Homo sapiens: one gene and its partner. The protein of the gene in region 1 purifies or fractionates together with the protein of each later gene. This does not show direct contact. Each region holds a gene or a part of one and is shown in the gene's direction. Other genes may lie near its edges.

What was found.
Region 2: the proteins of LRTM1 (region 1) and NAE1 purify together in Homo sapiens (affinity purification with mass spectrometry; one large-scale study listed by BioGRID and IntAct). This does not show direct contact.

Annotation. Positions count from the first base shown.
Region 1 is NC_000003.12:54,921,529-54,925,360, reverse strand, and holds part of LRTM1 (leucine-rich repeat and transmembrane domain-containing protein 1 isoform 1 precursor), read left to right. Parts: intron 1-145; coding exon 146-742; intron 743-3,832.
Region 2 is NC_000016.10:66,802,252-66,804,883, reverse strand, and holds the end of NAE1 (NEDD8-activating enzyme E1 regulatory subunit), read left to right. Parts: intron 1-1,765; coding exon 1,766-1,875; 3' UTR 1,876-2,006; downstream 2,007-2,632. UniProt on the Homo sapiens protein: Regulatory subunit of the dimeric UBA3-NAE1 E1 enzyme. E1 activates NEDD8 by first adenylating its C-terminal glycine residue with ATP, thereafter linking this residue to the side chain of the catalytic cysteine, yielding a NEDD8-UBA3 thioester and free AMP.

The DNA of each region.
Region 1 (3,832 bases):
CGGTGAGTGACAGAACCTCTCTTGCAGGTTGTAGAAGGTTTCACCTGGCTGGAAAGCACATTACCTGTAAATTCAAAGGCGGAAAAGTGCTGATACCACACCTCACAAACTGGTTCCTATCCCAATTTCTTTCTGTTTGTTGTAGGTGAACTGCTCCTGTTTTCCAGTGTGATTGTCCTGCTCCAGGTGGTATGCAGCTGCCCGGACAAGTGTTACTGTCAGTCATCTACAAATTTTGTAGACTGCAGCCAGCAGGGTCTGGCCGAAATCCCTTCCCATTTACCTCCTCAGACTCGAACGCTGCATTTACAAGATAATCAGATACACCATCTTCCTGCTTTTGCATTTAGGTCAGTGCCATGGCTCATGACCTTAAACTTGTCCAACAATTCCCTTTCAAATCTGGCCCCTGGAGCTTTCCATGGGCTTCAGCACTTGCAGGTTTTAAATCTAACCCAGAATTCACTCCTTTCCCTGGAAAGCAGACTTTTCCATTCCCTCCCTCAGCTGAGGGAGCTTGATTTGTCATCAAACAACATAAGCCACCTTCCCACATCCTTGGGAGAGACTTGGGAGAACCTAACTATACTTGCGGTTCAACAAAACCAGCTTCAGCAGCTTGATCGAGCGCTCCTGGAATCCATGCCCAGTGTGAGGCTTTTACTTCTCAAGGACAACCTCTGGAAATGCAATTGCCACTTGCTCGGTCTTAAACTCTGGCTGGAGAAATTTGTCTATAAAGGTCAGTCATGTCTATTTGGAACCCCCCATCTGTGTGTTACCAGCCTAGGATGAATCTCATCTGTTCTCTGCATTAGAAAGAATGTGGAGGAGTGTGTAAGGGGTGGATTTGGGCTTTTACACATCGGTGCCATTTCACGGTATGGCAAAAGAGTCAAGTGAGTCATTAGAAGGTGTTTAAATTCAGGTTCGAAATTAATCTACAAATATGTTGCATGGAGATAACTTTCACTTGTTTAATTAATATAACAAGAAGTTACTTATCTGGGAGTATGCTATTAAGAAGGAGGACATTCAATCACCACCTGAATAACTGCTCAACCCCAAATAACACCAACCTCTTATTATCAAGTCTGATCCAATTGTGGGTATGGTTATCTCTCTCTGGGATATTTTTCTCTCTTTGTCTGCTTCTACCCATTTGACAACTGTAATTCTTTTCTAAAATTGTCCTTTCTGCTTTAGCAAACACCAATGTCACTGAAATTGGGTGCAACAGGGCCTCTCTCTAAAGTTACTCACAATTTCTTTAACATGATGACAACAGCAAAGCAAGAGATCTCAGACTATTAAAGATGAGGGACTCTGGAAACCACCCAGGGTTAGCAAACTACAGCCCCAGGGCCACAGCCCATCTCCCGTTTCTGTAAATAAAGTTTTATTGGAACACAGCCATGCCCATTCATTATATAATGAGTGAGTGGTTGCTTTGCACTATAAAAGCAGAGTAGTTGTGACAGGGGCTGTATTGTCTATCTGGCCCTTTACAGAAAAGTTTGCCAACCCCTGTTGTCAATGGGCAACAGAGTCCCAGAGAGGTTCAGTGACTTGCCCAAGATCACAGAGCAGAAGCCCAGGTGAGAACAGAAGGCATGGCTTTTGGGTCTTGACCCGACATTCTTTCCTCCACTTCACAGTGCTTCACTCTTCCTAGCTCTCAGCATGATTCATTCATTTCTATATTTGAGTGCCTTTTGTATGCCAGGCACTGAGAAGATGGCAGTGCCTAACCATCACAGAGATTCCATTCTGGTAGTAGAAACAGATGTTAAATAAGATGATAAATAAAGATACATGTTTAGAATAGCAGTTAGTGCTAAGAAACAATGAGGCAGGGGAAGGGGAGAGTGATAGAATGTGGGTCTCATTTTTGATAGGATGGATGGGAAGATGTCTCCAAGGAGGTGACATGGCTGAGCAGAACCCAAAGACTGAGGAGGAATGAGCCATGAGATAACTGGGGGAAGGAATAGTGAACGCAAAGGGCTTGATGAGGGGGAAAACTTGGCTTGGCTGCAGGACAAAAAGAGGGACAAGACAGTGGCCAGTGCAGAGGAAGGGAGTGAGTAGACACAGACAAGACAACACCAGTACTTGGGGGTCAGATCATGCAGAAGTGTGCAGAGAAGGCCAAGATGCTTGGACTTTAAGTGAGATGGAAAGCTCTTGAAGAGTTTTAGTCAAGGGAACAATAGGATCTGATTACAATGTAAAAGGTCACTCTGTAGACTCTTGGGAGAACTGACGAAAGGCTGCAGAAGAAGAACCAGGGAGATGAGGGAGAAGATGATTTCAGTCAGCCAGCGAAGATGATGGTGGCCCAAACCAGGGTGGTGAGACATGATCAATGCTGGGAGATACTTGGAATACTGAACTGGCAGACATTGCTAATGGGTTGGAGTGGATGACTAAGAGAAGACCATAATTATGGGAAAGTCTATTTTGATTTGTCCTGCAGTGGTAATCAAGTAAATGGTGATGCCTTCAGCTGACAAGGGGCAAAGAGGGGACTGGGGGGAGTGAGTGAGTGTGTTGGGGAGGTGGTCAATTAGGACTTCAGCTTGGGGCATGTCAAGTTTGAGATGTTCTGTACATATCCATGGGGAGTCGTTGAGTTGGAGGTTGTATATTTAAGCCCGAAGCTCAGGAAGATGTTGGAGCTACAGACATGAATTAGGGAAGTCAACAGTGTCTGCATGGTTGTAGCGGTTCTCAGCGGGAATGAGGTTAGGGTGAATACAACATGGGTTAAAACGTACGATATTGAATAAATCCTTCTCAACAATGTAATAGTAAATTACATAATCAATATCCAGTCGACATTCAAGCCAACCAGCAACAGGAGCCACATACTATGGCAACATCTTCCTTATAAGAGGTTACAAATAAAATTGTTTACGTCTACAGGTAAAGTGGCTTGAACTATTGTATTGTGGATTAAATTGTAAGCACAGGCCAGCCAACACAGAAAGATAGTTTTCATTAAAGAACATTTCTTGATTAAAAAAAAAAAAAAAAAGTTCCCAGGACTAGGGCACTGGAAGCAACCTGGGATGGGATGAAATGTGCCCTACTCTGCCACAAACTTGCTGGTGGTCTTTGGGAAAATTAGTACACTTCCCTAGCACTCAGTGTCACCAGAGGGAAACTGATAGTTTTAAGTCAGGGAGTTCCTACGGCCCATTCCAGTCCTCAGATTCTGTGACGCATTTCAACACGCCGTCACAACAGAGCTGCATGAGTACAGATCACAGCTTTTCTTCGGAGGAAGGCAGAAATTGATTTGGGGTAATAAGACCTGGATGTCCCAACATAACTAGGAAAAATCCAAATATGTGTCAAACATGGGAGACAGTCTGATTATAGATATATTGAATACAGGCAAAATAAGGGAACAGATATGAGTCAAGATCTTCTTTTAAAAAAAGATATATAAACAAATGCAAACACTACAGGTATTAGGGCAGGCTAACCGACATAACAGACTAGCCCAGACTTTAGTTATATATGCAATAAAATCTGTTGCTCATTCATGGCAGAGTTCAAAGGAAATGGGGGCATGGTCTGCATTCCATGCAGTCATTTAGGGACATAAGACCCCTCGAGCTTGTGATGTCGCCAAGTTTATCACGTGGCCTCTAAGGTCATCCCCAAGTGGGAACAAAATGCATGGCGGATTACACGGGGGCTTTATGGCCTGGAGGTGGCATTAATTAATTCAATTAATTGAATTCCATTGTCCAGAATTCAATCACATGGCCTCAAATAGACCACAAAAAGTGGGAAAATTTAGTCTTCCTGCTGGCCTAAG
Region 2 (2,632 bases), on another chromosome or scaffold:
GTCTGGTGAGCGCCCATTTCCTGGTTCATAGGCAGCTCTCTCTTCTGTGTTCTCACATGGTGAAAAAAAAAATGGCAAGAGAAGTCTCTGGGGTCTCTTCTTAGGGCACTAATCCTATTCATGAAGGTTCTACGCTCTTGACCTAATCACCTACCAAAGGCCCTATCCTCATACAATTACACTGGGGGTTAGGATTTCAACATATGAATTTGAGGGGGAAACGAACCATTCAGTCCATAACACCCCTCAAAAAAAATTACTGTCCTGTGATCTCCTGTAGACTGAGCTATTAGCTTGTGGCATTTTCCTTCTAGATGTTGAATGTTTTAAAGGCAGATTTAGGTCTAATTAATATTTGAAGTGTTCAAAATGTAAATGCATCATACAGACCTAAGAAAACTATTTTCTAAGCAAATCCAAATTAAAGCCTGATTCAGAATAATTTATTTTAAACTAAAACCAAGTAGTCTCTTGTGCCAAAGTAGCAAAATTTTCTGCCAATTCACAGAAAAGGGCAAATTATTATTTATTCAGATGCAGTCCAGAATCTAAGAAGAGGTACAGCCAGATGGATGGACTGGATGACTTAACTATAGCAGAAAAAAGTATAAATTGAAGGTTTTCTTTGTTTTTTTTTTTTTGTTTTTTACTTCTGTGCATTCTGTAATCATTTTGCACAGTGCCATTATATCCCTTCACTTCCTTCAGGTTTTATTCAAATGCTGTCTTCTCTGCGATGCCATCCCTGACTCTCCTATTTAAAATACAAACCCCTTCTCTTGTATTTATATCTCCCTTATTTGCTTTTTCTCCTTAGCACCTATGGTCAGTTGACATACTACACATTCTATTTATTTGTAAATAAATTCTCTCTCTCTTGCTGCTAAAAAGTAGCATGAGGGTAAGTGGATCTTCTTGTCTTTTTTCCTTACTGTATCCCTACTGCCTAGAACAGTATTTGGTGCACAGTAGTCTCAAATTCTATCCAGTCGGCTGAGCGCGGTGGCTAATGCTTGTAAGGCCTCCGCTTTGGGAGGCTGAGGTGGGCGGATCACTTGAGGTCAGGAGTTCAAAACCATCCTGGCCAACATGGTGAAACTCCATCTCTACTAAAAATACAAAAAAATTATCCAGGTGTGGTGGCAGGCATCTGTAATCCCAGCTACTTGGGAGGCTGAGGCAAGAGAATCACTTGAACTTGGGAGGAGGAGGTTGCAGTGAGCCGAGATCACGCCACTGCACTCCAGCCTGGGTGACAGAGTGAGACTCTAGTCTAAAAAAAAAAAAAAATTCTATCCAGTCCATGAATATTTGGGAAAGAGGAATCTTCAGGTTATAGAAGATGCACAAGTTTTTTTCTTAGTAGTTTTTTTGTTTTGAGTAAATATAGCGGTCTGGCGATATTTAATATAGATCCTTCCTAAATTACAAATGCATTCAGAACAAATATACCTTTCTCCTTTTTTATTATAAAACAGATACAAGGTAAAATTCAAATGCAGCAGTAGGGTGTCCTTTGAGAATCTTTTATGCCTGTGTGTATCCTTTAAAGTTTGGTCAACCACACTACTGTTTAGATTTCCTTTAATAACAAAAAGAATTATAGGCTTTTATGTTGATATGACTCAGTAAGCTAACTGCATCTGTTTTGGGTCACTTTAAAACACCTTTGCTTTTGAAAAGGAAAAGTTTCTTTACAGAATTGAGTATGTAACTCTTGAAGTTTACTCTTTCAAAGATTTGCTTTTCTCCTTTTTCCTTTCAGGAGCTGCTGCTCAAGAGGTCATCAAAATAATCACCAAACAATTTGTAATTTTTAATAATACTTACATTTACAGTGGCATGTCACAAACTTCAGCAACTTTCCAGTTGTAGAGTAAGCAAGCACCTTAAGTAGTGTGTTAATGATTGAAACTGTAATTGCCTTCGGGTTGTGCTTTAGTCTGTAAAATTCTAAAGGAGAGCTGCTAAATTGTTTTCTTAATAAACATTTTTCTCATTTGTAATAATGTAGTCTTGTTCTTTGTGGGGAGGGGAAAGGAGACAGTCATTTTCCTAGAAAATGAATCCTATCCATTTCTCACTGAGCATCAATATTGGCTTGCTATTTCAAAGTTACTTGTCATAGATTATCCTTGTGTTTTATTAGAGATAATTAAAAATTTTTTTTCTTACCATCTTCAATAATGAATTTAAGCCATGTGCAGATGTTAGCTATGGACATTTTAGGACCATCATCATTTGTTAAAATGAATAGAATTTAAAAAGATATTTCTGGATATGTAGTTTTCCCAGAAAACAAGACCATCCCCTTGTATGTAGTATTATCTTAATTAACTTGAGTTTTGGCTGCCTAACCTACTTCTTGAAATTTTATGGGGTCATTCTACTCATATTATATATACTCTTAAATTTAATCACATGGGACTAATAGCATTCACCAGCATATTAGAGGGCAAAAAAAAAAAGGAAGTAGTAGATGCAAACAGAGTGGAAATCCAGAATCCAGAAGTGGGGGCAGTTCCCGGTTTTGGGCTTGATGTATTAATACTTAGGGCTGAGGAACGTGGTCCGTGGTGCATGACTCTTAGTAGCTAAGGCCCCTAATCTGCTGCAACTGTCTCTGAGGCCA